Linked DNA regions of Homo sapiens. The protein of the gene in region 1 interacts with the protein of each later gene in a pairwise test. Each region holds a gene or a part of one and is shown in the gene's direction. Other genes may lie near its edges.

Evidence for each region.
Region 2: the proteins of SSX2IP (region 1) and CDCA7L interact in binary tests that used the Homo sapiens proteins (3 or more experiments, as listed by UniProt).
Region 3: the proteins of SSX2IP (region 1) and ZGPAT interact in binary tests that used the Homo sapiens proteins (3 or more experiments, as listed by UniProt).
Region 4: the proteins of SSX2IP (region 1) and TRIM42 interact in binary tests that used the Homo sapiens proteins (3 or more experiments, as listed by UniProt).
Region 5: the proteins of SSX2IP (region 1) and PRKAA1 interact in binary tests that used the Homo sapiens proteins (3 or more experiments, as listed by UniProt).
Region 6: the proteins of SSX2IP (region 1) and TRIM37 interact in binary tests that used the Homo sapiens proteins (3 or more experiments, as listed by UniProt).
Region 7: the proteins of SSX2IP (region 1) and LMO2 interact in binary tests that used the Homo sapiens proteins (3 or more experiments, as listed by UniProt).

Annotation. Positions count from the first base shown.
Region 1 is NC_000001.11:84,659,005-84,663,129, reverse strand, and holds part of SSX2IP (afadin- and alpha-actinin-binding protein), read left to right. Parts: intron 1-599; coding exon 600-675; intron 676-754; coding exon 755-932; intron 933-4,125. UniProt on the Homo sapiens protein: Belongs to an adhesion system, which plays a role in the organization of homotypic, interneuronal and heterotypic cell-cell adherens junctions (AJs).
Region 2 is NC_000007.14:21,918,067-21,922,191, reverse strand, and holds part of CDCA7L (cell division cycle-associated 7-like protein), read left to right. Parts: intron 1-4,125. UniProt on the Homo sapiens protein: Plays a role in transcriptional regulation as a repressor that inhibits monoamine oxidase A (MAOA) activity and gene expression by binding to the promoter.
Region 3 is NC_000020.11:63,714,511-63,718,635, forward strand, and holds part of ZGPAT (zinc finger CCCH-type with G patch domain-containing protein), read left to right. Parts: intron 1-4,125. UniProt on the Homo sapiens protein: Transcription repressor that specifically binds the 5'-GGAG[GA]A[GA]A-3' consensus sequence. Represses transcription by recruiting the chromatin multiprotein complex NuRD to target promoters.
Region 4 is NC_000003.12:140,687,856-140,691,980, forward strand, and holds part of TRIM42 (tripartite motif-containing protein 42), read left to right. Parts: coding exon 1-687; intron 688-3,112; coding exon 3,113-3,337; intron 3,338-4,125.
Region 5 is NC_000005.10:40,759,946-40,764,070, reverse strand, and holds part of PRKAA1 (5'-AMP-activated protein kinase catalytic subunit alpha-1), read left to right. Parts: exon of another isoform or gene 1-1,048; coding exon 1,049-1,293; 3' UTR 1,294-4,125. UniProt on the Homo sapiens protein: Catalytic subunit of AMP-activated protein kinase (AMPK), an energy sensor protein kinase that plays a key role in regulating cellular energy metabolism.
Region 6 is NC_000017.11:58,998,359-59,002,483, reverse strand, and holds part of TRIM37 (E3 ubiquitin-protein ligase TRIM37), read left to right. Parts: intron 1-728; exon of another isoform or gene 729-742; coding exon of another isoform or gene 743-769; coding exon 770-886; intron 887-3,024; coding exon 3,025-3,107; 3' UTR 3,108-4,125. UniProt on the Homo sapiens protein: E3 ubiquitin-protein ligase required to prevent centriole reduplication. Probably acts by ubiquitinating positive regulators of centriole reduplication.
Region 7 is NC_000011.10:33,881,691-33,885,815, reverse strand, and holds part of LMO2 (rhombotin-2), read left to right. Parts: intron 1-3,539; exon of another isoform or gene 3,540-3,632; intron 3,633-3,876; exon of another isoform or gene 3,877-3,928; 5' UTR 3,929-3,992; exon of another isoform or gene 3,993-3,997; intron 3,998-4,125. UniProt on the Homo sapiens protein: Acts with TAL1/SCL to regulate red blood cell development. Also acts with LDB1 to maintain erythroid precursors in an immature state.

The DNA of each region.
Region 1 (4,125 bases):
AAATGATGATGTTAATGTTAACAGGACATGGCAAACTTTTTCTGTATAGATCCATATAGTAAACATTTTCAGCTTTATGGGATCTACAACTTATTTGTTGCACCTACTTATCTCTGCCATTGTAACAAGAAAAGTAGCCATAGGCAGTATATAAACAAGTAGATGTGGCTGTGTTCCCATAAAGCTTTATTTACAAAATCAGGCAGCCAGCCTGTGGGCCATTATCAGGCAACCCTGATAATGAAATTAATAATGATAAGGTAACATTTATTAAGTACTTACTGTGCGCCAGATACTGTGTTCACTCTACTGTGTTGGGTGCTTTAATAGTTATTTCTTTGTCTTCTCAACAACTCTTTGGTAGATACTTTTGTTATTCCCAGTGTCCAAGAAGAAACAGGCTAAGCAGTTAAATAATGTGCCGAGATCTCATTGCTTACAAGTGGTGGAACTAGAAACTCGAAAATTAGGCTGTTTAAGCCCAAATCCTAACCTATATACCAGGTTCACTTTCACCACTTACGTGTATAGAATGCATTAGAGTTTTAGATGCTTAAGCATGTATGGTAAGAATTAATTTTATGTGTTCATGTTTGTAGCTATGGACATTTTGAATTATGTCGGGAGAGCTGATGGAAAAAGAGGCTCCTGGAGGACTGGTAAAACTGAAGCCAGGTAAAGTCCAGTTTAAATTGATAAATGTAATCAGACTTCCTTCTATCCTGCATTTTCATACTGACAGTTTCTTTCTCAGGAATGAAGATGAAATGTATAAAATTCTCTTGAATGATTATGAATATCGTCAGAAACAAATCCTAATGGAAAATGCAGAACTTAAGAAGGTTCTTCAACAAATGAAAAAGGAAATGATTTCTCTTCTTTCTCCCCAAAAGAAGAAACCTAGAGAAAGAGTAGATGATAGTACAGGAACTGTAAGTGGCTCTTTCCTCTCTAATACAGTCTTCAGATTGCTAATAAGAATAATTAAAATATGTGGTAGGCATTCTCAATGGGGACACTATTGGTATTTTGAATAGGACACTCAACTGCTATGCTACTTTCAATTACTGTGACAACTGAAAAGACTGTTCCTATGTGTTTTCAGACATTTCCTGAAAAATGCTGGAGATGATTTTCCGGGGAATTAATACATGTCAAGCACTGTTAAGAAGTGCTTTATAAGCATTGTCTCATTTTATAATATTCCTCATAACATATGAGATTATTTCATATATTATAATTTGATGATTTAGATACTATAAATATCCCCATTTTATAGATAAGGAAACTAAGGCATAATATTTAGTAGCCCAGTATCACACATGACAGTGCTAGGATTTGAATCCAAGTTTCTCACTCCAGAGCTCACAATCATAACCACTATGTCAAATATCCTTTCAGTTGTTTTAGTATTATGTACTCTACTTTTCACAGAGTGAAACTTCTGTTAACTTTGGGAAACAAATATAAATTTATTGGGTGTTCTTTATGTTCTAGTCTCTGGAAAGGAAAGGCTAAAAAGATTTTGACTTTTTCCCTCAAGAAGCTCTTTTTGGGAAAGACAGACGTGGAGAAGTGATTATTACATGTGTTAGGTGCTGTAATAAGGTGGTACAATGTGCAGAACAGAATAGTTATGGCAATCAAGGCATCACAGAGAAAGTGACATTTTCACTGCTTCTTAGAAAATAAGTATTTTTGAGGTTAAAAAAAAAAACATGGAGAAAGCATTCCAGAGAATGGGAGTAATATATGCAGAGATCTGAAAAAAAAATCACATAATGGTGAAAAGTTCATTTTACTTAATTGCTTTACGTATAAGTTAAAATCGTAGGTTTCAGCAAGTTCACATTAGTGATAAAAATCTGAAAATAATGTTGATGGAAAATGCTAGTTAACAGCAAGATACCAGAACTTGTTTTTTAAACCTGTATTTGAGGATTATTTATTTTGTGGTATCACAAATCAGTCCAGCTGATAAGCCCATCCCAGCACTTACCTTTTTTTCTCCTTAACATTTAAAAAAAAAAATTACCTAAATTTTTTTTTTTTTTTTTTTTTTAAGAGACGGAGTCTTGCTCTGTTGCCAGGCTGGAGCGCAGTGGCACAATCTCGACTCGCTGCAACCTCTGCCTCCCGAGTTCAAGTGATTCCTCTGCCTCAACCTCCTGAGTAGCTGGGACTATAGGCAGCCGCCACCATGCCCGGCTAATTTTTTTTTTTTTTTTTTTTTTGTATTTTAGTAGAGACGGGGTTTTACCATGTTAGCCAGGATGGTCTCAATCTCCTGACCTCGTGATCCGCCTGCCTCAGCCTCCCAAAGTGCTAGGATTACAGGCGTCAGCCACTGCGTCTGGCCTTTTTGAGAGAGAGTTTTGCTCTTGTTGCCCAGGCTGGAGTCCAGTGGCACCATCTCACCTCACTGCAATCTCTGCCTCTCGGGTTCAAGCAATTCTCCTGCCTCAGCCTCCAGAGTAGCTGGGATTACAGGCATGCACCACCACCCACGGCCAATTTTGTATTTTTAGTAGAGACGGGGTTTCTCCATGTTGGTCAGGCTGGTCTCAAATTCCCGAATATCTTTTACATTCTCCATTTTGAGGCCTGCTTGACCTCTTATATGTAGTTAACCTCTTATCTCAAACTCTGTCACTTCTAGTCAGTTCTTAGCATTCACTAATACTTCTTCAAGGTTAGCATAGTGTCCATTACTACTGCAGCATCTTCAGTTTTTGGTCCAACCTTAACGTCTCATCATCAGATTTCAGTTAGCAAAAGTATGTGGTAAGTCAGGGAGATCTTTCTTCAGTGATTAAACCCTCCTCACCCCCATTACTCAGCCAGTGGGTAGTATCCTGTATAATTCTTCATAATTCACATGTTTAAGTGGATGAACAATGACCTCTTAAATATATATTCTAGTTTTAAAAGATCCATTTTTCTAGCTCCCTTTTCTCTTTAATTTTTGTAGGGAAAGATTTTTGAAGCATTATAGCAAGAGAAATAAGATGTAATGTTGGAATGCCTAGGTAGCATCCACATTTCATTTATTATTTGACCTACTTACTTGTAAAACATATACCGAAAATTCAGGTAAAATGAGTTTGTTGTTTTGTTTTTTGGTTTTTTAGAGGCAGGGTCTTGTTGCCCAGGCTGGTCTCGAACTCCTGGGCTTAAACAGTCATCCCACCTTGGCCTCACAAAGTGTTGGGATTACAGACATGAGCCACTGTGCCCAGCCGAATTTTTTATTTTCATTTTGTGGTTAGAGAGTTCTGTTCAATCTGAGAAATGTGCAATAATTATTCATTTTTCTTTCTTTTTTTTTTTTTTGAGATGGAGTCTCACTCTGTCGCCAGGCTAGAGTGCTGTGGTGACATCTCAGCTCACTGCAACCTCTGCCTCCCGGGTTCAAGTGATTCTCCTGCCTCAGCCTCCTGAGTAGCTGGAAGTACAGGCATGCACCACCACGCCCAACTAATTTTTGTATTTTTAGTAGAGACAGGGTTTCACCATGTTGGACAGGATGGTTTCGATCTCTTGACCTCATGATCCACCCACCTCTGCCTCCCAAAGTGCTGGGATTACATACAGGCATGAGCCACCGCGCCCGGCCAATAATTTTTCTAACAGATTGGTAGTATTCTAATAGGCTTTAAAATGTTCAGAAGAGAAGCTGTGCTTCCTTGGAAGAGTTACTGGCAAGTAGCTTTTGAGTATTGGCAGGGGCTAGAATCACCATGAGCCGGATCCTGGGCCATTCCCCTGTCTGCTCCGCCTCAGAGACCCTGACCTCTGCTAGCCCATTGCTGACCTCAACTACTGATAGAGTTCTTCAGACTCAGTTGCTCCCTCATCCTGCTGATCTCCATGTGCGAGCAGTCGAATCAGCCCTTCTTTCTTTTCATCTTTTATCTTTCTTTTTTCCCCAGCAAGATTTTTATTGTTCAAATTAGTGAAGTATATCTCTCTGCCTTCCTGAATATTAATGACAAATTAGAACTACTTTATGTAGATGTGGGTTATTATGACATATATCCCTTTTAGTATTGTTTCCCCATGTTCTTTATCCTGCTTTGATTCTGTGTGATCATATATCAGTAAAGTTTGCTACTTCTTTATGAT
Region 2 (4,125 bases), on another chromosome or scaffold:
TAGAAAGATGTCTTAGGATTCTGGGTGAAAATTTTTAATTCCCCTCATGTAGGAATGTCACAGAGTGTACCTTTTTGACTTAGTATTTTCCTAGTAAAATACACCTTTCTTAAGAAAATGGCTACAAAGTCAGATGCATGTAAATGCTTTCAGCAAGGGTTTGTTGATCATCTGCTTTAGGCTGGGCTCTATGTTAGGTGCCTGTGGATTCCATTCTAGTACCTGTGTTCTCATAGAATTGAATCCTGGTCCCCCATATGACTTTTGATGATATTCACACTGTTAATTCCAATAAAGACAGAGTAGACAAACAGAAACTGTACATGAAAGGAATAGCATGAAGTTGTCGATTTTTAACAAGTATTATAAATAATGAAACGGTCTTTTCACTTTCAGATGAGAATTTTCCCTTTTTTTTTTGGTTCACTAGATAGTAGTTATCCTAATTCAGAAGTTCAACTAATGTAAATATCCATTGATTGAGAAATTTTGTATTTTTGTTGTTTTCAGTTACTTGTTGTAGTTTTCTTTTTGGTGAGTCTTATGATTGGCTTTATTGTAATAGAATGGAACACAAACTTTGAAAAAAAAAAAAAAAGGTCTTGCATTTTTGTCTAGACTATGCAGCTACCCAGTGGATCGCTGCTGAATGGAACAGGAAAGTGACAGATCCTTGGGCCTAATGTATCACTGTGTTGTGGAACTGGTCATTCATTAGAAGAGGTCCCTGTGTATCCTTTCTATCAGGTCCTTCTCATATAAATCTTGCTGCCTTTGTTGCATCTGTTAGACAAATCAGTTCGTTGCATTGAGGACACTTGAATATTTTACAGTTTTTTTTTTTTTTTTGGCAAATCTTGAAGCTTGTGACTATCTGAAACTCTTTTAATACCTTTTGAAGGATCAGAGCCCTGCGTACCCCAGGAATGCACACCGTTTTTTTGAAAGTGTGCTCTTTCCTTTTGTTCCTAATCAGTAATTATAGCCCCCTAATGGTACCTCTGGAGCAGATGCAGAAGTCAAAGATGCAGAAGGAGGAATTAGCTAGTCAGACACAGGCTCGCAGCAGTGGTGGGGCTGAACACAATAGCACAGGGACTAATGCAGTTGCTGCTGGAAGCAGTTTATTCCTATCACCAACCCTCTCCATTCCTTGTATGTATTTCCATTAAATCCATAAATGGGGTGCTCCTCCTCCTTTAAACCATTTATGTTAAAAGAAGCTTCTGGGCCAGCAGGGCTGTTTGAATTTTGTAGAATGGTGAGAAGGCCAAAAGAAAAAGACTGAAATTGACACACTGTCCCTCTTAGTGCCTCTGCAGGGACTGAACTCAGTGGCTATTATGTAGCTACAACATAGGCACACTTTCATAAGTATTGTCTGTGTTTCTCTAGTCTGGGTGTTTTCCTTGCGTATTAGTTCTGAGTGCTAAACAACAACAAAAGGTGTCTTTGAAAAGATAAGGTGGCAAACATTGTTTAACATACCTCCTTGAGAAAAGTTTCAATATTTTCCCCAAGAATGATGTCAGAGTTAGGCTTTGCTAGTGCTGCACTACGTGTGGCTGGTAAAAAAATTGTTAGTGGAACTCTACTTCTGTAAGTGTTGTTCTTGTTTGTCCCTTGCAGTGATTTTATTAGATGGTGGGAAAGTGTTTGTATTAACCCTTCAGCATCACTGAACTTGGGGTATCCCATTTCTGTATTTATGTTACACTTCCTTTGATTGAACCATTATTTTCTAATTATTTTTAATCAAGAAGCATTAAAATAAGGATGAAAGTAAATAGATTAAGGATTACCAGTTTCCTAAATGGAACCTGACTAAATGTAAAATTAAGTCAACACACCCACACAGAGAATTCCACGAAGCTAAGTAGCTTTTGAATACACAACTCTGTATATGCTAGTGCAGTGGTCAAAGTGTGAGATGGAGGACCTGAGACCCTTTCACGGGTCCATGAGGGCGAATGTAATGTCATAATAATACTAAGATTATTTGCCCTTTTTGCTGTGTTGATATTTGCACTGATTGTGCAAAAGCCAAAGTGGAGAAAACTGCTGATCTTTAGCATGAATCCAGGTGGTAGCAACAAACTGTATTAGTAGTCATTGCATTCACCTCCATGCACTCAATTTAAAAAGAAAATGTCAGTTTCACATAAGAATGTTCTGATGAAACAGTAAAAATTATTAAGTCTCAACTGTTAAGGACATCTTTTTAATATACTGCATGATGAAATGGGAAGTACATGTGAAACATTTTTGCATAACCATGTACAATGATCATCTGGTTAGCTGAAGGAAAAGATCCTGTGTATAGTGAGACTATGTTCCAGGGCTAGAAAGAACTGCAAAGAAATCTTGAACTGCACTGTTTGTTGTTGGTAGTATATTGGTGGCGTCAGTTTGGCGCTATTTTGTGTTTATTGTAGATAGAGCACCACATGGATAAGTATATTAAAAATTTTGGGAATCGAGGGTTTTCCTTGTGGTGGAACGGCGATGCTAATGTGAGATGAGGGAGAGATGAGGGAGCAGAGGAAGAAGCCTCCGTGTTGGATTTGAATTCAGGGTGTCACCATGAACTTGTGATTTACCTATTTAAAATATCCTTGCTCTGTCCAAAGAGCCTACAAGCAGTGATACTTAATTAACCGAGATGCATTGTGTTCTCCGAGCTTGGTTTTTAAATGCCATTTCCCAGTGAAAGGTTTCAGGGCTCCTTGGAGAAATGGCTGATTTGAGGTCTGGGACAGGAAACATACAAGGTTAGCTTGCCATGCTTGTGTCAGAAAGCAAGGAGGTGTTGAAAGACCCTTAGTGCCATGTCAGAAAGACAGAGGATGACTTTCCAAGAAGCTCCCAATGGCCAAATTTGGGACAGTCAGCATTATGAGAGTATGGATTATAACACATTTAATAATAATTTTTAGAAATCCATGGATATACATGGTAGAAGAAAAGGGGGAGAGTGAGAGAAAGACTATATTATACAAGAATGCCAGCTACTTTGTGAAGGAGAGAGAAAATCTGAAAATTTCTCTTTTGCAGTCCCTAATGTAATAATTCATTCAAGGGTGCCCTGGCTCATGCCTGTAATCCCAGCACTTTGGGAGGCTGAGGTGAGAGGATCACTTGAGGCAAGGAATTTGAGACCAGCCTGGGTAACATAGACCCTGTCTTTATTAAAATAAAAAATATAAAAAAAAAGAATTGTCAATGGACGCTGAAACTGTTGAGCAAGATGTTATCAGGGAGGCTATTCACAGAATCTCAAGTCTCACTCTGCATATTCCTTATTAGTGACAAAGGAGAAAGGGTGTTTTTTGTTGTTGTTATTGTTTTTTGTTTTGTTTTGTTTTAAAAGCGAAGAACAAATCAGGCTGATTCCACCTTAACTTATTGACCAAACAGCAACATCACTAAAAAAAGAGACAGCCAGACCTTATGTGCTTTCCAAAGGAAGAACATAGCACTTCCTAAAAAGTAGTCTTGGCAAAAGCAAGCCAACTAGAAGTAAAGCCTCCGGATTCAACTCCCAAATTGTAAACCCAAATGAGTCTGTTAAACACCACCTTGGGGATGCAAAAAAAATAAAACTTCAGACTTGGACAGACTCCACAGTCAAGTGACCCAGCTTCTTCAAAAATAAACTGCAAGAGAAAAGAGATAAAGGAGTGATGAGAAGGGATTTAAGAGCCATGTTGATCAGTGTGAACCTTATTTGGATCATGATGCAGATAAACTAAGTTTTTAAAAAATGAGGCAGAAGAACTGTGAATACAGACTGCACATTTGATGATGATACAGAGTGACATGATACTATGTCTACAGTTGCCTCACAATAATTTAGAAGAAGGGGAGTTGGGTCGGGATCCAGGGGAAGCACAGTTAGCCTTGGGCAGATAATTACGGGGAGGATCAATGTGTGCTCATTACAATATCTTCCCATCTACTTTTGAAATATCTTTGAAAGTTTTTATAATGAAAAATTTTTTAAAAATTACTAATTAATAGTGGGATAACTTGACATTTTGTGCCCCCTTATGCAATGCATTGAGGAGTACATGTCACCTATGTAGAATGGTGACAAAAATACATAACCTGAATCTAATCATGAGG
Region 3 (4,125 bases), on another chromosome or scaffold:
ATTAGGTGGAAAACTTTTAGTCTTTCACTGTTGAATATGATGTTACTTGTAGGTTTTCTGTAGATTCCCTTTATCGAGTTGAGGAAATTCTCTTATATTCATAGTGTGTTGAGTGTTTTTTATCATGAAAGGGTGTTGATTTTTTTTTTAAAGATAGGGTCTTGTTCTGTCACCCAGGCTGGAGGGCAGTGGCATGATCATGGCTCACTGCAACCTCGAATTCCTGGGCTCAGGGGATCCTCCTACTTCATCCTCCTGAGTAGGTGAGACTACAGGCATGAGCCACCATGCCCAGCTAATTTTTTAATTTTTCTGTAGAGGTAGGGTCCTGCTTTGCTGCCCAGGCTGGTCTTAAACTCCAGGGCTCAAGCAATCCTGCCTCAGCCTCCCAAAGTGCTGAGATTACAGGGGTGAGTCACTGCACTGCACCCAGCTGTGTGGGATTTTTCAAATGCTTTTTTCCTTTAGATGATCATGTGTGGTTTTTTTCCTTTCATTTTGTTAATGTGGTATATTGATTTTCGTATGTTGAACCATCCTTGAATTCCTCAGATAAAGCACGCATATTCATGGCGTATTATCTCTTTATTATTATTATTTTTGTAGAGATGAGATTTCACTCTGTTGCCCAAGCTGGTCTCAAACTCCTGGGCTAAAGTGATCCTCCTGCCTCAGCCTCCGAAAGCGCTGGGATTATAGGCATGAGCCACTTGGCCCTATCTTTTTTCTTTTTCTTTTTTTTTTTTTTTGAGACAGAGTCTCACTCTGTCGCCGGGCTGGAGTGAGTGGCGCGATCTCGGCTCACTGCAACCTCCATCTCCCGGGTTCAAGCAATTCTCCTGCCTCAGCCTCCTGAGTAGCTGGGACTACAGGTGCCCGCCACTATGCCCAGCTAATTTTTTGTGTTTTTAGTTGAGACGGTGTTTTGCCATGTTGGACAGGCTGGTCTTGCACTCCTGACCTCGTGATTCACCCACCTTGGCCTCCCGAAGTGCTGGGATTACAGGCGTGAGCCACCGCAGCGAGCCTTATCTTTTTAACAGTTAAAAGTTTAAGGCCTTATCATGTAATAACATTGCTGGATTTGATTTGCTGCTGTTTTGTTGAGAATATTTGCATCTGTATTGATAAGGGATATTGGTCTGTAGTTTTCTTTTCTTGGCATGTCTTTGTATAGCTTTGATGCCAGCATAATATTGGCCTCATAGAATGAGTTAGGAAGTATTCTTTATATTATGGGAAGAGGTAAAAAGGGATTGGTGTTAATTCTTCTTCAAATGTTTGATAGAATTCAACAGTGAAGTGATATATACAATCATATATAGAGAGAGAGAGAGAGAGAGAGAGATGGACTTTTCTTTTGTTGGAAGTTTATTGACTATTGATTCAATTTCCTTATTGAAATTGACTTTTCTTTTTGGAAGCTAAAACGTATAACTGTAGTGAAAGTTTCTGAACTTTTCTTTCATTGGAAGTTTTTTGACTACTGATTCTTTATTTGTTATAGGTCTATTCAGATTTTCTGTTTCTTCTTGAGTCAGTTTGGTCTCGCTCTGTCGCCCAGGCTGGAGTGCAGTGGTGCCATCTTGGCTCACTGCAACTTCTACCTCCCGAGTTCAAGTGATTCTCCCACCTCAGCCTCCCCAGTATCTCGGACTACAGGCGCACGCCAGCATACCTGGCTAATTTTTGTATTTTTAGTAGGAACAGCATTTCACCATGTTGGCCAGGCTGGTCTCGAACTCCTGACCTCAGGTGATCCACCCGCCTCGGCCTCACAAAGTGCTGGGACTACAGACATAAGCCACCGCGTCCAGCCTTGAGTCAGTTTAGATAGTTTGCATGCATGTTTCTAGGAATTTGTCCATTTTGTTTATGTTATCTAATCTGTTACCATACAATTGTTCATAGTATCCTTTTATAGCCCTAGTTATTTCTGTAAGATCAGTAGTAATAGCTCCACTTTCTCTCTTGGTTTTAGCAATTTGAGTCATCTCTTTTCTTCCTCTTTTTTTTTTTTTGAGATGGAGTCTCACTGTGTCACCCAGGCTGGAGTGCAGTGGCATGATCTTGGCTCACTGCAACCCCTGCCTCCCAGGTTCAAGCAATTCTGCCTTAGCCTCCTGAGTAGCTGGGATTACAGGTGTGAGCCACCACACCCAGCTAGTTTTGTTTTGTTTTTTTGTTTTTGAGACGGAGTCTGTTTCTGTCTCCCAGGCTGGAGTGCAGTGGTGCAATCTCACTCATTGCAACCTCCGACTCCCAGATTCCAGCAATTCTCCTGCCTCAGCCTCCTGAGTAGCTGGAACTATAGGCGTGCACCACCACGCCTGGCTGATTTTTATATTTTTAGTAGAGATGGGATTTCACCATGTTGGCCAGGCTGGTCTTGGACTCCCTACCTGAGGTGATCCGCCCACCTTGGCCTCCCAAAGTGCTGGGATTATAGGCATGAGCCACCATGCCCAGCCAGTTTTTGTATTTTTAGTAGAGATGGGGTTTCTCCCTGTCGGCCAGGCTGGTCTTGAAATCCTGACCTCAGGTTATCCACCAGCCTTGGCCTCCCAAAGTGCTAGGATTACAGGCATGAGCCACCACGCATGGCCTGTCTTTTCTTCTTGGTCATTTTCGCTAAAGGTTTGTCAATTTTGTTGATCTTTTTTGTTGCTGATCTCTATTGTTTTCCCATTCTGTTTCATTTATTTCCATTTTAACCTTTGTTTCCTTTTTTCTGCTGGTTTGGGTTTAATTTGCTCTTTTTTTCCCCTAATTTTTCAAGGTATACAGTTAAGTTATTGATTTGAGATCTCTTTTTTCTTTTCTTTTTTTTTTTTTTTTTTTTTTTTTGGTTGCTGTTGAGATGGAGTCTCCCTCTGTCACCCAGACTGGAGTGCAGTGGCATGATCTCAGCTCACTGCAGCCTCCGCCGCCCAGGCGATTCTCCTGCCTCAGCCTCCTGAGTAGACGTTTCCCGGCCAAGGTGTTTCTTTTTGAATGTAAGCATTTACAGCTACAGATTTCCCTCTAAACACTGCTTTCACTGCATTCCATAAGATTGTTTTTTGTTGTTGTTTTGTTGTTTGAGACACAGTCTCACTCTGTTGCCGTTTGGAGAGCAGCGATGCGATCATAGCTCTGTAGCCTTGAGCTCCTGGACTCAATCAGTCCTCCTGCCTCAGCCTCCCAAGTAGCTGGGACTACAGGTGTACACCACTGCACCTAACTAATTTCTTTTATAAGTTTTTGCAGAGGCCAGGCACAGTGGCTCACACCTGTAATCCCAGCACTTTGGGAGGCCAAGGTGGGTGGATCACCTAAGGTCAGGAGTTCGAGACCAGCCTGGCCGACAGGGAGAAACCCCATCTCTACTAAAAATACAAAAATTAGCTGGGCGTGGTGGCAGGTGCCTGTAATCCCAGCTACTCAGGAGGCTGAGGCAGGAGAATCGCTTGAACCTGGGAGGCAGAGGTTGCAGTGAGCCAGGATCACACCATTGCACTCCAGCCTGGGTAACAAAAGCAAAACTCCATCTCAAGAAAAGAAAAAAAAAAGTTTTTGCAGAGACAGGGTATCACTTTGTTGCCCAGGCTGGTCTCAAACTCCTGACTTGAAGGAGTCCTACTGCCTCGGCCTCCCAAAGTGCTGAGATTATGGGCAAGAGCCACCGCACCCTGCCACTTGGCTGTTTTGTTCTGTTGTATTTCCATTTTCATTGATCTCAAGACATCCTAATCTCCCTTTTGTTTTTTTGTTCGACTTACTCGTTATTCAAGAGTGTCTTTATTTCTGCATATTTGTAAATTTTCCAAAAAAGTTTTTCTTTCTTTCTTTTTTTTTTGAGAAAGGGTCTTGCTCTGTCGCCCAGGCTGGAGAATGGTGGTGCACAATCTTGCCTCACTGCAACCTCTGCCTCCCGGGTTCAAGTGATCCTCCCACCTCAGCCTTCCCAGTAGCTGGGATTACAGGCACACACCACCACACCTGGCTAATTTTTGTATTTTAGTCTTAACGTGCTGGTCAGACTGGTCTCGAATTCCTGACCTCAGGTGATCTGCCCGCCTTGGCCTCCCAAAGCACTGGGATTACAGGCGTGAAACACCATGCCCAGCCCCCAATTTTTTTTTT
Region 4 (4,125 bases), on another chromosome or scaffold:
AAGATCATCATGGAGCAGATAGAGAATCTAGAAGTGTCCAGGCAGAAGGAAATTGAAAAATATGTGTATGTTACAACCATGAAAGTGAACGAGATGGATGGTCTGATCGCCTACTCCAAGGAAGCCCTGAAGGAGACTGGCCAGGTGGCATTCCTGCAGTCAGCCAAGATCCTGGTGGACCAGATCGAGGACGGCATCCAGACCACCTACAGGCCTGACCCACAGCTCCGGCTGCACTCAATAAACTACGTGCCCTTGGACTTTGTTGAGCTTTCCAGTGCCATCCATGAGCTCTTCCCCACAGGGCCCAAGAAGGTACGCTCCTCAGGGGACTCCCTGCCCTCCCCCTACCCCGTGCACTCAGAAACAATGATTGCCAGGAAGGTCACTTTCAGCACCCACAGCCTCGGCAACCAGCACATATACCAGCGAAGCTCCTCCATGTTGTCCTTCAGCAACACTGACAAGAAGGCCAAGGTGGGTCTGGAGGCCTGTGGGAGAGCCCAGTCAGCCACCCCCGCCAAACCCACAGACGGCCTCTACACCTACTGGAGTGCTGGAGCAGACAGCCAGTCTGTACAGAACAGCAGCAGCTTCCACAACTGGTACTCATTCAACGATGGCTCTGTGAAGACCCCAGGCCCAATTGTTATCTACCAGACTCTGGTGTACCCAAGAGCTGCCAAGGTAAGAAAGGTTCTGGGCCCAGTGGGGAAGTGGGAGGGTGTGGGGCACAGAGTAGAAGTGAGTAGTCAGGAAAGGTTGCACTTACCTCTTTGACCTCTAGGATCTGGTCACTCATATCTGCTCCTCTAGACTCTTTGTGGTCATCCCATTCAAAAGGGATAAGCTCCTGGAATCTTAAGTAACCCAAAATTAGCTTAAACCAAACAGTCAATATATTTAACTCATAATCGTAAATATATCTGAAAGCCCTACCTCCACTGCAAAGGCAGCTTCTCAACTGAAAGAGAACCCAATTTGGGAACCAAAGTAATTTGAAGACACTACTTGGCAGTGTAATGTTTCCCAAAGGAAAGCCTGTAATAGAGACAGCACAGAAATTGTACTTAGAAATGCAGGCTCCATTACCTATCAGCTGTTTCCGTTAAATTGCTGCCTTTCCTAAAGCAAATATCCAGAATCTCTATGATTTGGAAAAATTGGGAGGATCATCCCCAATGAAATTTCAACTCTTCTGAGATTCAACCCGCCTTGAAGGGAGAGAGTGAAGAGTGGGGTCTGTCACAGACCTCTGTAAGTGCCATTGCCTGGCCTCAAGGGACATGACTTCCCTTTGACCCTCTTGACCTAACATGGACAACATGAACAAATGGGCTTTTCTTTAACATACCTTTCAAATCTAGCTGAACCCACACGGAATTGTTTGTAGAACACTTTATTAAGGTTTATGGAGGAAAAAAATTAACATGCAACTAAATATTCTATTAGAGTGCCTCTTTCCTCCTCTTGGATTTTTCCTACAGTCAACCCATGGCCTGCTCCCATGTGGCAGAGCTCATATTTTGTCTCCCATAATCTGAGAACACTCCCAAAGACTTTCAGATCCTTGAGTTCTCAAACATTGATGTGCACCTGGGGATCTTGTTAAAATGCAGATTCTATTTTAGTAGGTTTCAAAGGGGCCTGAGATTCTGGTTCTCACAAACTTCCAGGTACTGCCAATGCTGCTGTCTACAGACTACACTTTAGTATTAAGGATCTAACAAATGAAGGCCAGATACAGACCAAGATTTACTTTTCCATTCTCCTGACGCATCACAATCTATGTTTTATTGTCTATAATTAACACAAAGAACAACCCATACTTTGCAAGTTAGAACACTCCATGAGCTATCGACATGATGAAGTGTTTCTGCCCTTCACATAAGCAATGCCCATAACTGAGCAGCTGAACTACATTTCCAATTGATACTAGATCAGCAAGGCCTATCGTGTATGCTTATTACCTCAAGTATAGCACTGGGTCTCATCTCCTTGACCAACTGAGACCTCTTGAGAAGTTGGCAGGATCTTGCTCTGGAGTCAGAGGATTGCTAGTATCTGCTCTATACCTGGGCATGGAAAATAGTCACCCCATGCCACCTATTAGTCATCCCTGATGAGCTCAAAAAAGAGACCTACGCAAAACAACTCAGTCAAGTCATTTGCTGTCGAAAGAGGACACCTAAACCTACTGCCAGACAGTGATATTTGATTTTAAAATATCATCGATTCATATTTTAGGATAATGGAATGGACTTCATACAGGAATCATAGTGCTTAGCAATGCAGAAGATTAAGTTTATGTTAACATCACTCTCAAATCTTTAGGATTTTAGCATAGAAAATATTCTGAAACTTAGTGTTGTACCTTTTCAATATGTATTGTTAATATCATAGAGATTTTTTAAACTCAGTTTTAGTTCTAGGAATCTCTTCCAAGAAAATTATTAAAAATTCAGACAAATATTTATGCCCAACAGTATTTATTACAGCATTTATTTATTAGAGTATAAAATTAGAAACAACATAAATGTTCAACAATAGAAGGATTAAATTATTTTGGGAGAAATTTCAAAGATGGTAGTTTACTGAATTTTTAATGATTTAGGAAAACATACAACATAAGTAAAAGAAAATAGAAATCAAAGCTACTTAATCCAAGTTTTTATGTATATATATATATATATATATATATATATATATATATATATATATATATATATATGTTTGTATGTGTGTGTGTGTTCTGAAATTGCAAAGAAATAATAATGAATTAACTGAATTGTGATATTATGAGTGATGTTTATTTTCTTCCCCTCTATTTTTCGGTATTTTTCAAGCAGGAGGACAATTGTCACCTCCATGTCGACTGACAGTAACAGAACGGAAACCTTCTGTTTGTGAAACTCATTACAACCATCATGCCAGGCCTCATCACACAGTCTTCCAAGACTTGTGCATGGTCTAATTAAAAGTCTTCGGTAGCTACAGGGGATGGGGTCAGCTTAAACTCACCCCACAGATAGTCAACATCACAAATCTTTAAGGGAAAGAAAGCTGAATGATGTATACTAGTACCACACCAGTATGTTCATTTCTTCCATAGGTTTACTGGACATGTCCAGCAGAAGACGTGGACTCTTTTGAGATGGAATTCTATGAAGTCATTACTTCTCCTCCTAACAACGTACAAATGGAGCTCTGTGGACAAATTCGGGACATAATGCAGCAAAATCTGGAGCTGCACAACCTGACCCCCAACACAGAATACGTGTTTAAAGTTAGAGCCATCAATGATAATGGTCCTGGGCAATGGAGTGATATCTGCAAGGTATTGTGTGCGTTATTTCTCAGACAGATTTTTTTTTCTATGGTAGGTTCTGGATGAGGCCCTGTTAAGATGATCGTGAGATTATAGAACTCACTATGGGACTCTTCCTCTAAGCACAGAACATTTGTTAACTTGAGGCCAAAGAGAGGGCTGCTGGCCTCAACCAGACTTTGCAGATGTCGCCTGAGAATTGTTCTATTTGATTCAAAAACATTTGTTCTAGGCATTGTGTACAGATGTAGAGATTCAGAGGAAAATAAACATAATCCCTGCCTTCAAGGTGCTCAGGGTCTAGTAAACAAATAATTGTTGTGTGAGAAGGACATGAAATAATTGTGGTACGAGAAAGATAAAAATGAGGTGCTATTCCCAGGCAAGGATGGGGTGCCAGATTTAACTAATGAAAATACAGGATGCCCAGTTAAATTTGAATTTCTGGCACACAATAATTTTTATAAAATATGTCCAGTGCAATATTTAGAACCTATTTATACTAAAAACAATTGTTCATCTGAAAGTCGAGAAACTGCCACTAAGCAGGTCAGTGTGCCTTCCAAAAAAGAAAGGACAAAGTTATTCCTATCTTCTTTGTGATCCAAGACTTACTCTTCTTTATATCTCCAGGGAATACACATTCATGAGTATAATTTTATTGATATTAAAAGGAGAAAGAGAATAAAAATACCAAGACTGCCTAGAGCTGCTATCTTACCATATAACCATAAGGGTGTTCTTTGGAATCAGGGTCGATTACATCTTAATCAGGAATTCTTTAGAAGAAGAAGAAA
Region 5 (4,125 bases), on another chromosome or scaffold:
TGTGGTGGCTTATGCCTGTAAACAGCCCAGCACTTTGGGAGGCTGAGGTGGGAGGATGGCTTGAGCCCAGGAATTTGAGACCAGCCTTAGCAACATACTGAGACTCTGTCTTTACAAAATATTAAAATATATATATATAGTATCACCTTTGCTTATGGAAGGTTGCATAGAATTATTAGATGAGGTTCACGTTTGAATTTTTTTCTTCTTTATAAACTCAAAGATAGTACACACATAGTAGCAGAAAGACACAGGTTTGAGCCATGATATGTTGGCCAAACCAGTTTGTCTGGTTATCTTTAGGTCCATATAGTACGTATCTGCTAACATATACTAATGCAGTCTGAAATACGGAATGAGTTTTATTTTTCTTGTATTTGGATCAAATTTGCAACCTTAGATTTACTAGTACTGGGGTATACCAATTGAATGCCCATTTTGTTTTTGTACTGTGTTCCCAACCTTAGTTTTTCTTCGATTTTTATTCATTGGAATTGTTGCTCTTTTATGAAATACTAAATGAAATATGAAGGGAAAGTGGAAAGTAAAAAGCACTGAGCTGAGACTTAGGAGAGTTGGGTTCTAGACTTACCTTTCTGTTCATTTGTTACCTTGGGCAAGTCATTTCTCTGGGTTTGTTTTCTTATCAATAAAGTGAGGGGCTGGATGAGATGGTTTCCAGTATACCCTCCAAATTTTAAGTGCATCGATTCTATGATTTTAATATAGAGGGATTACTTTTTATTGCTATAGAATAATATTTATTAATCCCTAGATTGTTGGTTTACTGGGCTCTTAACCTTGGATTGCAACTGATGAGTAGCTATACTGTACCCAACTTTGGTTAGCTATCTTGAGAATACATACTATATGTAAAAAAGATGAATAGTTTAATACAGGCTCATTGACTGTTTTAGAAGGTATTTAGAATAAGCGTGCTCTTGATAGCTGGCCAGCAGCCCCACTTAAAGAAGCAAATTCAATACTGTTACAAAAATTTTTGGGAGAAGGTCATAGACTATAATAAATTGAAATTCTTTTTACCCAGATGAAATTACAGAAGCCAAATCAGGGACTGCTACTCCACAGAGATCGGGATCAGTTAGCAACTATCGATCTTGCCAAAGGAGTGATTCAGATGCTGAGGCTCAAGGAAAATCCTCAGAAGTTTCTCTTACCTCATCTGTGACCTCACTTGACTCTTCTCCTGTTGACCTAACTCCAAGACCTGGAAGTCACACAATAGAATTTTTTGAGATGTGTGCAAATCTAATTAAAATTCTTGCACAATAAACAGAAAACTTTGCTTATTTCTTTTGCAGCAATAAGCATGCATAATAAGTCACAGCCAAATGCTTCCATTTGTAATCAAGTTATACATAATTATAACCGAGGGCTGGCGTTTTGGAATGCAATTTGCACAGGGATTGGAACATGATTTATAGTTAAAAGCCTAATATGCAGAAATGAATTAAGATCATTTTGTTGTTCATTGTGCAGTATGTATATAGCATAATATACACAGTGAATTATAGGTCTCAGGCTTACTTGATTTTTGGCTATTTTATATTTAGTGTACACAGGGCTTTGAAATATTAATTTACATAAAGGCCTTCATATATTATTACGTGTTATATATTACGTGTTATAAATTTATTCAATAAATATTTGCCTAGAATTCCCAAGACCTTTATAGGTGATTTTGTTTTCTGGGCTCCTTAACTTCATAAATAGCTAGTATCTTCCAGCAGTAGTAACAGTCTGGATAACTTCTTCCATATCCCTCCCTCTTTGTTTTTTTGAGACAGTGTCACTTTGTCACCCAGGCTGGAGTGCAATGGTGTGGTCTCGGCTCACTGCAACCTCCACCTCCCGGGTTCAAGTGATTCTCCCGCCTCAGCTTCCTGAGTAGCTGGAACTACAGGCGTGTGCCACCACACCCGGCTAATTTTTCGTATTTTTAGTGTAGACGGGGTTTCACTATGTTGCCCAGGCTGGTCTCGAACTCCTGACCGCGTGATCCACCACCTCAGCTTCCCAAAGTGGTGGGATTACAGGCGTGAGCCACCGCACCCGGCCTCCATATCCCCCTTTTAAAATTCTGTAGTGTATGGTAAGTCATATCAGATATCAGACCTAATTTAAATTTCATTTTAGCTTTACAAGTCCAAAAACACAGAATTTATATATTCAGATACTCTAGCACTAATTTTAGTCTTAAAATATTCCCACGATATTCTGTACACAAAATGTTCTTTTTGTTACAAGAGCTGAGTTGCATATACTGTAGATAAATCATATTATTTTTGCCAATTTCACAAATTCCTCTGGCCCATCATGTCAGTCATTATTGAGTATATGCACACATTGCTACTTATTTGATTATGTATCTTTTAAATTGATTCAGTGCATAGAAAACTATCTCTTACAAACTTTAAGTGCTCTGATATGACTTCCCCCCCAAATTTTATTATGAACATTTTTAAAAACAGAAAAATTGAAAAACTGTTTGGTAAGCACATGTATATCTACCATTTAGATTCAGCAGTTGTTAATGTTTTGTCATTTGTTTTCTCTATACCTATATATGTATAGATACAGCTAGTTATGCATATATATGCATATATGTGTTTGTTTGTGTATGTATATATGCTTTTTTCCCCCTGAACCATTTGGATGTTACAGACATACTTATCACCGTGAAAATACTTCAAGTATCTCCTACAGATAATGACATTCTCCTAAAAATCCGTAATACCATTGTAAAAGTAATAATTCCCCAATATCATCTAATCAAGCCATATTTAAATTTCTGAAGTTAACTCCAAATTTCTTTATAGCTGATTATTTCAAACTAGGATCCAATTAAAGTTTACATATGACACTTGGTTATAACTCTTTAGTTGGATATAACATTATTATTATTTTGATAAAATATGGAACAAATCAATTCTATTAATAAGTGGTCACATTTGTTTTGGGCTTAAATTACTTTTTAAAGATACTGGATTTTCCTAAGATTTCTGATTTACACTGATATTTTTTTTTGTCATTCTTAATTGCATCACACAATAGATGTAAATGAAGATGTAGTCACCTCAGATAAAATTGGTATCGTGTATGATAATATTGTATCATTTATATTTGCCTTATGTTAACTTTAAGAAATTGATTTTTTTGTATTAATCATTTTCCCATTGCAACAGAGCTATATTTTTTCTATTTTAAGAATCATATTTTAGGATTATTTTTGGCAAATACAGTGAGCACTTATGTAACCAGATGATAATGAACTCAAATGTCATGATAGCTTGCATAAATGGTGACTCTAGTAGATTTGACTCAAGCACTTCTAGAATCATGCACTGAATTCAAAAGAAAAATCTTGCTGCTTTTTGTCCAGGGCTTGTTCTATTCAACTTCTAATTTGAAAGCTGTACAAAGTAATAGAAGTTCCATTTAAATATGAGTTCAAAACTGTATTTACTTTTTATGTGGCCCTCTCTTTAGGGGATTCTAATTTTACTTAGGGTCTCTAAGTGCAGCATAATGTTCCTGATGTTAACAGAAGACTGTATTTTTAAAGTTACAAATTTGTATATGGAATTAAGTAATGGCGCTATATACGCTGTTGTGGGGAGGGGGGAAGAAAAGGAGGAACCAATTAAATAGGACCTTTTAAAAATTGTTAATTTTGTAAACTTTGCTTCTCTTATAAGTTATTGTGATTCATTTTAGTTACTGTGTTTTATTTTGAAAATATTTAAATATTGCACTTCTATAAATAGTATGATAAATGCACAGACAATTGCAGTAAATTCTTTTTTAAGCTAGGATATTTGAAATGACAACCTTTGGTTAAGTGTGTCAAGGTTGCAACAGAATTTTCACAATTTTTTTGTTGTTTGCAAATTGTTACTAATATTGAAGAGGTAAGGGAGGCAATGCAAATGATTTTTAATCTTTTTTTATTATCTTTTCAGCAGTTTATATTTTTTGTGACTTTATGCAACCATATTTTTACTTTGTCTTGACAACTGAAAGATGTATAAGGTTTTTTGCCAGAAATGTACTGTATACATAGTTTTAAGTATAACAGATTTTACTGATATGTAAAAATTTTGC
Region 6 (4,125 bases), on another chromosome or scaffold:
ATCTCTTCTCAAGCCCAGGATTTCAAGACCAGCCTGGGCAACATATTATAGCAAGACCCTGTCCCTCCAAAAAATTTTTAAATTAGCAGGGCATGGTGTCATGTACCTGTGGACCTATCTACTTGGGAGGCTAAGGCGGAAGTATCCCTTGAGCTTAGGAGTTTGAGGCTGCAGTGAGCTATGATCAGGCCACTGCAGCCCAGCCTAGGGTGACAGAGCGAGACCCTGTCTCTCAAAAAATAAAAATAAATACAAATCAACCGACATACACAAAAAAATTAGATGCCCAATTAGAATACAAACTATTATTAGAATTGCCAGAATTTCTAATATTCATACACCATGTGGATTTGTATAACACATTTATATTTATGTTTTAGGCTAGGGAATATAATTATGTCTATAATGAATCAGGATTAAAAGAGTTCCTGTTATCTCTTGTGACTGAAAAAAAAACAGTGTTTGATTTGGAAAAAAGTATTATCAGTATAATAAAATTAATGCTGGTTTCAAATAATAACTTTCAGGTACTATGGAAAGGGCAATTTTAAACTTTGAGAACAGAAATAAAACCACTCTAAATAGCTAAAGAGAATCGAGGTTTGTGCGGTTACTTTTGTCTTTGTTTTGTTAGTGTTTAGTTTGTTGAATTCTTGGCATTCCATGTAAAATTCAATAGGAATCTCAGTTTAGCAGATACGGAGATTTCTGTTTCCTTTTACTTACAGTGGTTTCTTTTCAGAAACATGTTCTCCTTCCTTCCTGCCAGGAATGAGTAGCGACAGTGACATTGAATGTGACACTGAGAATGAGGAGCAGGAAGAGCATACCAGTGTGGGCGGGTTTCACGACTCCTTCATGGTCATGACACAGCCCCCGGATGAAGGTGCAGCACATGATGTCATTTTACACAGATTACTAAAACCACCGCTGCCGCTTCTCTTTCTTCTTCTTCTGCTGCTGCTACTTCTACTTTTTCCGCTCTACTGCTTTTGCTTCTTCTGCTTCTACTTCTTTTTTTTTTTTTTTAATTATTGTCATTTGTGAGACAACATTCTTTGGTTAACTATTATGGTGAGTACTAAAAAAACACAGCCAGTAATATTTGGCTTGGTTGCACCTAATGAGTGCTACTTACTGGGCAGAGACGGGGTCCACAACCTGCTTTTGTATAGTCTGTGACCTGAGAATGGTTTTTACTTTGTAAAGAGTCTTTAAAAACCAAGCAAAAGAAACAAAGAAGAATTTTCTTTGTGGGTTTTTTTTTTCTTTTTTTTTTTTTTTGCCCCGAGATGGAGTCTTGTTCTGTCACCCAGGATGGAGTGCTGTGGCGTGATCTTGGCTCACTGCAACCTCCGCCTCCTGGGTTCAAGCGATTCTCCTGCCTCAGCCTCCTGAGTAGCTGGGATTACAGGTATACACCACCACGCCTGGCTAATGTTTTTGTATTTTTAGTAGAGATGGAGTTTCACCATGTTGGCCAGGCTGGTCTCGAACTCTTGACCTCGTGATCCACCTGCCTTGGCCTCCCAAAGTCCTGGTATTACAGGCGTGAGCCACCGTGCCCAGCCCAAAGAAGAATTTTCAAGAGAGTCCATTTGTGGCCTACAATGCCTAAATATTTACCCTTCATAGGAAATGATTGCCAATCCCTGGGGAGATTTCAGATGTTTGGGTTTTTTTTCCTTTTCTAGCCTACTGTAAGATAACTTTAACCTTTTAAAATAAAAATAACTTAGAAATACATGCAGATTATGAAATAATTTTTATTCCCTCCTACCCCCAAAAAAGTTATTAGGAAAAAAACAAGAGAAACCTACTATTAATATTTTCCCTTGTTTTCTTCTGTCTTATTTGCATTGCATTTCTTCTTCTTTTTTTTTTAGACAGAGTCTTGCTCTGTCTCCCAAGCTGAAGTGCAGTGGCACAATCTCAGCTCACTGCAACTTCTGCCTCCTGGGTTCAAGCAATTCTCCCACCTCAGCCTCCTGAATAGCTGGGACTACAGGCATGTGCCACCACATCCAGCTAGTTTTTGTAATTTTTAGTAGAGACAGGGTTTCACCATGTTGGCCAGCCTGGTCTCGAACTCCTGACCTCAGGTGATCTGCCCACCTTGGCCTCCCAAAGTACTGGGGTTACAGGTGTGAGCTACCATGCCAGCCCTACCTAAATATTTTATAAATAGTTTTTTATTCTGCTTTTTTCACTTAAATATATTTGTATGTTATTTAAAATTTCATAAACTTCATTTTTTATGGCAACCTAATATTCTATCATGTGGATATACCATAAGTATTCTGCTGTCAAGCAGTTTTCTGGAATACAGATTAATCAGTAAAAGGATATACTGTCAAGTTAGAGAAATACACATTTAAAGTTACCCAGAGGCCTTAATAATCAATCTGAACATTCCTCTGCAAGATATCCTGGAGTGACAACATTGTTAAGCCTATGCCATTTTCTGCTTTATATTTTGCATATTTTCCTGGTGCTCTGGTATCTTTTTCAATACAGAACCAAGCATTTGATGATTTGTAAGTATTAAGGCATCTTTAGTAACTTCCTCTGCTTCTAAAATAAGCATCCAAATTTTGTGCAAGTTATTTGGAGTGCTGGTGGGTTTTTGTAGTGATACTTGAATGCGTAGTTTAATTGGCTTTGAAATATGTTTTATGTTTATAAGGTCTTGAATCTTGAGAATATACACCATTGCTTCTTGTTCCCTTTTTAAGCTGTCCCCAGATTGTCCCCAGGAGGACAAAATGAGACAATTCCTGTCATCTTTTAATTGTGGGTGTCTATTACACATTTTGTTTTTTTCTCCTTTATTTTTCCTTTGTGTTTGCTTATACCTGACTCAGATCACAAATTCTCTGAAGACAGAGATTTGTTCACAACCCAGCACATCTTTATCACTTAAATAACACATTTGGTAAGATTATTTAAAGACTTGGGAAGGAAAATACTGCCCTTGTTATATGCTTTTAAATTTTAAATTTTTTATTTATTTTTTAATCATAGATACACATTCCAGTTTTCCTGATGGTGAACAAATAGGCCCTGAAGATCTCAGCTTCAATACAGATGAAAATAGTGGAAGGTAATTGCCAAATCAAGAGAACTGACTTGCAAGCTACCTTGACCCTGAATTTTGCTGTAGTTGGTGCTCAAATTTGTCATCAGTCAGATAATCAGATTTGGTCTTATTTCTTCATTATCTCGACCTGAAATAGTAATTTGGAAACTGTTGGAAGGTGGCACAGTTTAGTCTAAGACAGCAGTAGTACATGGGAAAAACAGTATGGGAAGAGTTCTTTGTAATGTAAGGAAATAACAATGTAGTTCTCTATTAATTTAGCAAATTTGTACATTCACAAAAGGCAGTTTGTCTACTACAGCAGAAGGCTGGTTAACTGCCAGAAAATGTACCTCCAGGCCCTGCATGCCGTCAGTAACCCGCCCGGCATTGGTGCTCTACTGTCTTTGGCTAGAGCTTAGTTGTGTTTAAATAATCATCTTTATATTTGGGGTTTTAATTACAGTTCCATTAGTGCCTGTAGATTAGTGAACAGAAAATTGCTTTGGAAGAGATTCTGCCCTGTAGACACTATGTGAATAACTGAAGTAACACTAGACTGAATCTCCTTTTTGGAGTATGTATCTTCTCTCACTTGTTCAAGTACAGGCACACTGTTCAACCGCATGGTATCTTTCTGTTGTGTGACTTCTACAAATGTAATTTTAAATGAAATTAAGTTAACATGGATTCATTACGTTCCTGGCCCTGTAGACACGTGTAAGATTATTTAAAATTCTTTCATTTTTTTCTGCCTCTTACTATACGACTGTAGTGCAACAAATATTTTAAAGCCCCCTTTTCTTCTTTATTTTCATTAGTTGTACATTGATTTCAGTGTCAACACATTTAAAGATTCATTCATGTTGCACAGTGGCTTACATGAACGTGAAACTGTGATATAAGGTTTTCTTTCATACTCATAATTAGCCCAAAACAGTTGCCAAACTTTGCCATTGTGCTCCTGCATTTGTGTTTGAGCTGCTATATATTTGTGGAAATTACACTGAAAGTTGACTAAGAGACTATTGAAAAAGCATGAATAA
Region 7 (4,125 bases), on another chromosome or scaffold:
CATCCTGGAGGCTGCCCACCAGTTACCCACATCATCTACCAAGGGACCCCCTTGCTGGAGCACAAACAGCTTCCCTTGGGGGATCCCTCAATCAGCATTTGTCACATACCTGAAAAGGGTGGCCACCACACAGGCCACCAAAGTTATAACTCTCTCCTCTCACTTCCTCCCCATTGGGCACAATAAACCTCATTGCCATTGTGGCTGGAACTTCCCTTCCTGGGCCTCCCAAAGCAATTCTACTGCCTAAGGCTATCTCCGGGCTAACTTGTATGTACACAGAGATAAAGCCACATCCCAGTGGCTGGACCTCATGCAATGTTGGGCCTCCTATCTGCCCCCATGAGCAGGCCACTCCCTTATTTGCACCACAAAACCACCAACACCAAACACTTCTGGTCTAGGCTCCTAGGTCTTGCCCTGTCCTATGTTGGCTCAGATGTTATCCAGTCTGGTCCCCGGCTCATGAGTCCAGATCATACATCTATCCAAATGTATAAATACATGCCTATGCTTGTATCTTCCTAGGCCCACACAGCACAACTAGTGTCATGGCCCACCCCAGATATTAAAGGAACACAAGAGATTGGAAGCCCCAGAGGGAACCTGCTTCACCTGTTCCACTCCTAGATAACTTCTTCCTGACGTCCCAAATACCTAAACTCACCTGCACACTGCTAAGTCTGACAACCCCCTTCACATTTTTCTGACTGTTCTGCAATTTAACCCTGCTGGTCACAGTCCCCAGTCAGAGGTGATGGGCAGTCTTCCTACCCATTGTCCTGGGTATAAGCATGACTTGGGGCCAGAAGAGTGGGACTAAGGTCTTACAATATGATCACACCAGGAAAACTAGCAGATACTTCAGAGAAAGATCCGAGGTCCTATCAGCCCACGTAACACAAAAAACAGCAGCACTGGAAGCTTTCACTGAAGGGCAAAAACCCCTAACTGCCAGGGTGGCAGATAAGAGACTAGCTCCAGATGATATGCCAGCTTCCCAGAAGGAGTATATGCTCTCAGAGGGCATAGTGTATCCTGCTGGACGTGGATAAATATTGCAAGGCAAAGTAATCCAAATAGCCCAATGGATGTACCACCAAACAGAAACCAAATTCTACATGTGGTACTCTGAACTCCCTAGGACTTGGATGTCCCCTGTAGCCTGGGGTGACCTTGTTTTAGGAGCCCTCCTGCCCACAAGTAGACTTACATACTGCACTGGCTATGTAAAATTGGTACAGCCTATATACAAGTATATTAGCTCTTTGGATGGTGAACCAAATGTTAGGGAGTGAATTTTGAAGAAATTGAGTTGAGTGCAAAAAGTTGCTCCCAGCAAAATGTCATTTGTCCAAATAGTTAACACCCACTGGGGCAGAAACCATCAGGGCACCCCACCCCTCACCACCCACTCAGCCCCACTCACCTCTGCAGCACCTAGTAATCATATGCAAGAAAACTCACCCTTACTCTTTTTGATTGACCACCCCCAGCCTGACCCCCAATGGAGCAGATCACTCAAAATTAATCTTCCCCCACTACCTCCTCTCGGCATTATTCAACAGGTGGGCCCCTGTCCTATATCTACGTAGGTCCCCAGCACCAGGCTCTTTCTCCTCCCCAGAAGTCAGGGAGTCCTCTTCTCAGTGGGGCCCTCAACCAGTGGCTTCCCTCGCTGCCTATGCCTGCATAAGTAATACACCTTTGAATTGCCTGTGATCACCGGGTCAGGTGTGGTGCGTTTTGGCATCCAAGGCTTTTAAATGGGAGAGAACAGCAGATCTGGTTCCTTTCACTGGAATATTGTTATGGTCCAATTCTGCAACCAGCTGACTTCATTACTACCTGTGAACTGCACCTCCAGCTCCTCCAACTGACCCCATACCCAGACCCTTACTTGGGCTGTTTCCTACCAGACACACCTGCTCTGTTAAGAAAACCATTATTGAAATCACCGGCTGTTAATTCCTACTCAGTCCTTAGTAGCCCTGTGAGCTGGAGCAAGTTCTGTAGGCTTTCTGTGACTCAGTTTCATCACCCATAAAATTATGATTACAATACTTACTTCATTAGGGTGTTGCAAGGGCCTAAAAAACACTCTATGTATAGCTCAAAGTACAAGCCTGACAACAAAGGAAGTTTCCAGATAATCGCTCATCAAGGGGCAACTCGATTTTCTGCTTCCTCCAGAAAGCCTTCCATGCTGATGTCCATCCACTCTGATCTCTCCCTAATCCAATCTGATTGCAGTTTTGATCAGCACCTCACTGTTGACCATGGATTTCTTCTCCATTACAAATGTGTTCATTTTGACTTCCAAGTAAGAGATAAAGGTCTTGGAAAGAAGTGATTGCATTTTACCTGGCTCTCCTACTGACTTTCTGTGTCATCTTCCTCTTAATTTTGGGGAGACTGAGTTTCTTTCTCTGGGATGGCAAATACATGGCCTATGTGCCAACACTTTCCCATCCTGAAACCTCAGGACACACACCAGTGTTCTCATCTTCTCTCCAGAACCTGGGTCCAGACTCACAATTCTTCTTAACACAATACTTTGGACAGTGTCTACTAACTTATCTAATAAATATGTTTTGAGTACTTCGTAGGTACCATCCCCCTTGGTCAGTTTCTAGAAGTTAAAACGTTGGACATCTTGTATCTGCACTTATGGAACTCATCCCTTAGTGGAGAAGAAAGACAATATGCAAATACACAAATAAGAAAATATCAAGTAGTGACAAATATAATGATGAAAATTAAATAACGGTGTGTTAGTGCCTGGGGAGGAGGCTATTTTTTAGATCAGGTATCCAGGGAAAGGCCTTCTGAGGTTTCTCCCTTGATCTGGGAGATTGGGTGTGGGCCTAAGAATATGTATTCCTAACATGCAAACGTAGGAAATTTGGGAAACACTGGCATAGTGAATGAGGTGAGGGCATAGTCAGAAGACCTAGGTCTAAATTCCGTCTCCTACATTTATGCAGCTGTATGACCCTGGGAAAGTTATTGAAATTTCTCTCTCACTTTCCTCCTCTGTAAAATTGGAATAATATTACTGATCTCAGGAGGTTTCTTATCAGGATTGAATAAGATCAAGTATTTAAAATGCCTGGCACATAATAAGTGCTCAATAAAAGGTAGGCATTGTTTGCCACAATTAGGTCTATCTATTTATAACCGTAATCTTTTGTTTGAATCACTCAAGAGACAAATCCAATAAATGCCGCTAGGTAATACGGTGTCTGCGTGTTGGCTTTTGCCTCATGAAGCTCTTCCTCTTGAAAAATAAATTTTCAAAAGACATTCCTGTGAGCAAGAATGCCCGAGTCTAAGGAACAAGGGTCATCCAGTTCTCTAGTTTAGGCATGTTTGAGATTTGAAAGGGCTTTGGCCTAATTTCCTCTCCTATCAAATGGGCACCAGGCTACCTGCCCTTTTTCACTCATGGGGGATTTCTGAGACTCAGAGGGATAAGAGATTTGCAAAGCGTGAGACACAAACAGTTGCAGATACAGACAGAACACTTGCTTTCTCAGACCGGCAGGTGCATACAATGGCAAGGCCACCTGATACACCAGTCCTGTTCATTTGGAAAAGGGACAACTCCTTCACATTCACAAGCTGGGCTGGTAAGTGAAGAATAAGAAGAAAAAAAAAAGAAGTCGGCAGGAAGCAGCCTCTTCAACCAGCAAAGAAACCGTTAGAATCCATCCCTGCGCCCTGATGCCAAAGTTCCGCCTGCCCCACCCGTCACGCTATCAAGGACACCCGCCTGCTATCAGAAAGCCCTGGGGGTCTTTTTCCCTAGTTTATCAAGGACCTGTGGAAACATTTCTCTAACTGAAGATAAGAATTTTTTTTCTCTCTCTTTCTCCTTTCTACTTCTAGCTGTCTAAACCAGAGGGTTCCTCTCATTTTCTTTCAGTAACAACTGCTCTGAAAAGAAGATATTTTTCAACCTGAACTTGCAGTAGCTAGTGGAGAGGCAGGTAAGGTGGGTTTCATTAATTCATTTGTTCATTCATTCATTTCTTCCATTATTGTATGCTTCCTGCATGCCAGAAACTGGGCTAAGAAGGCTCTTGGATTTAATCCTGGGCAGAATGAGCTTGAGGTCTTTGG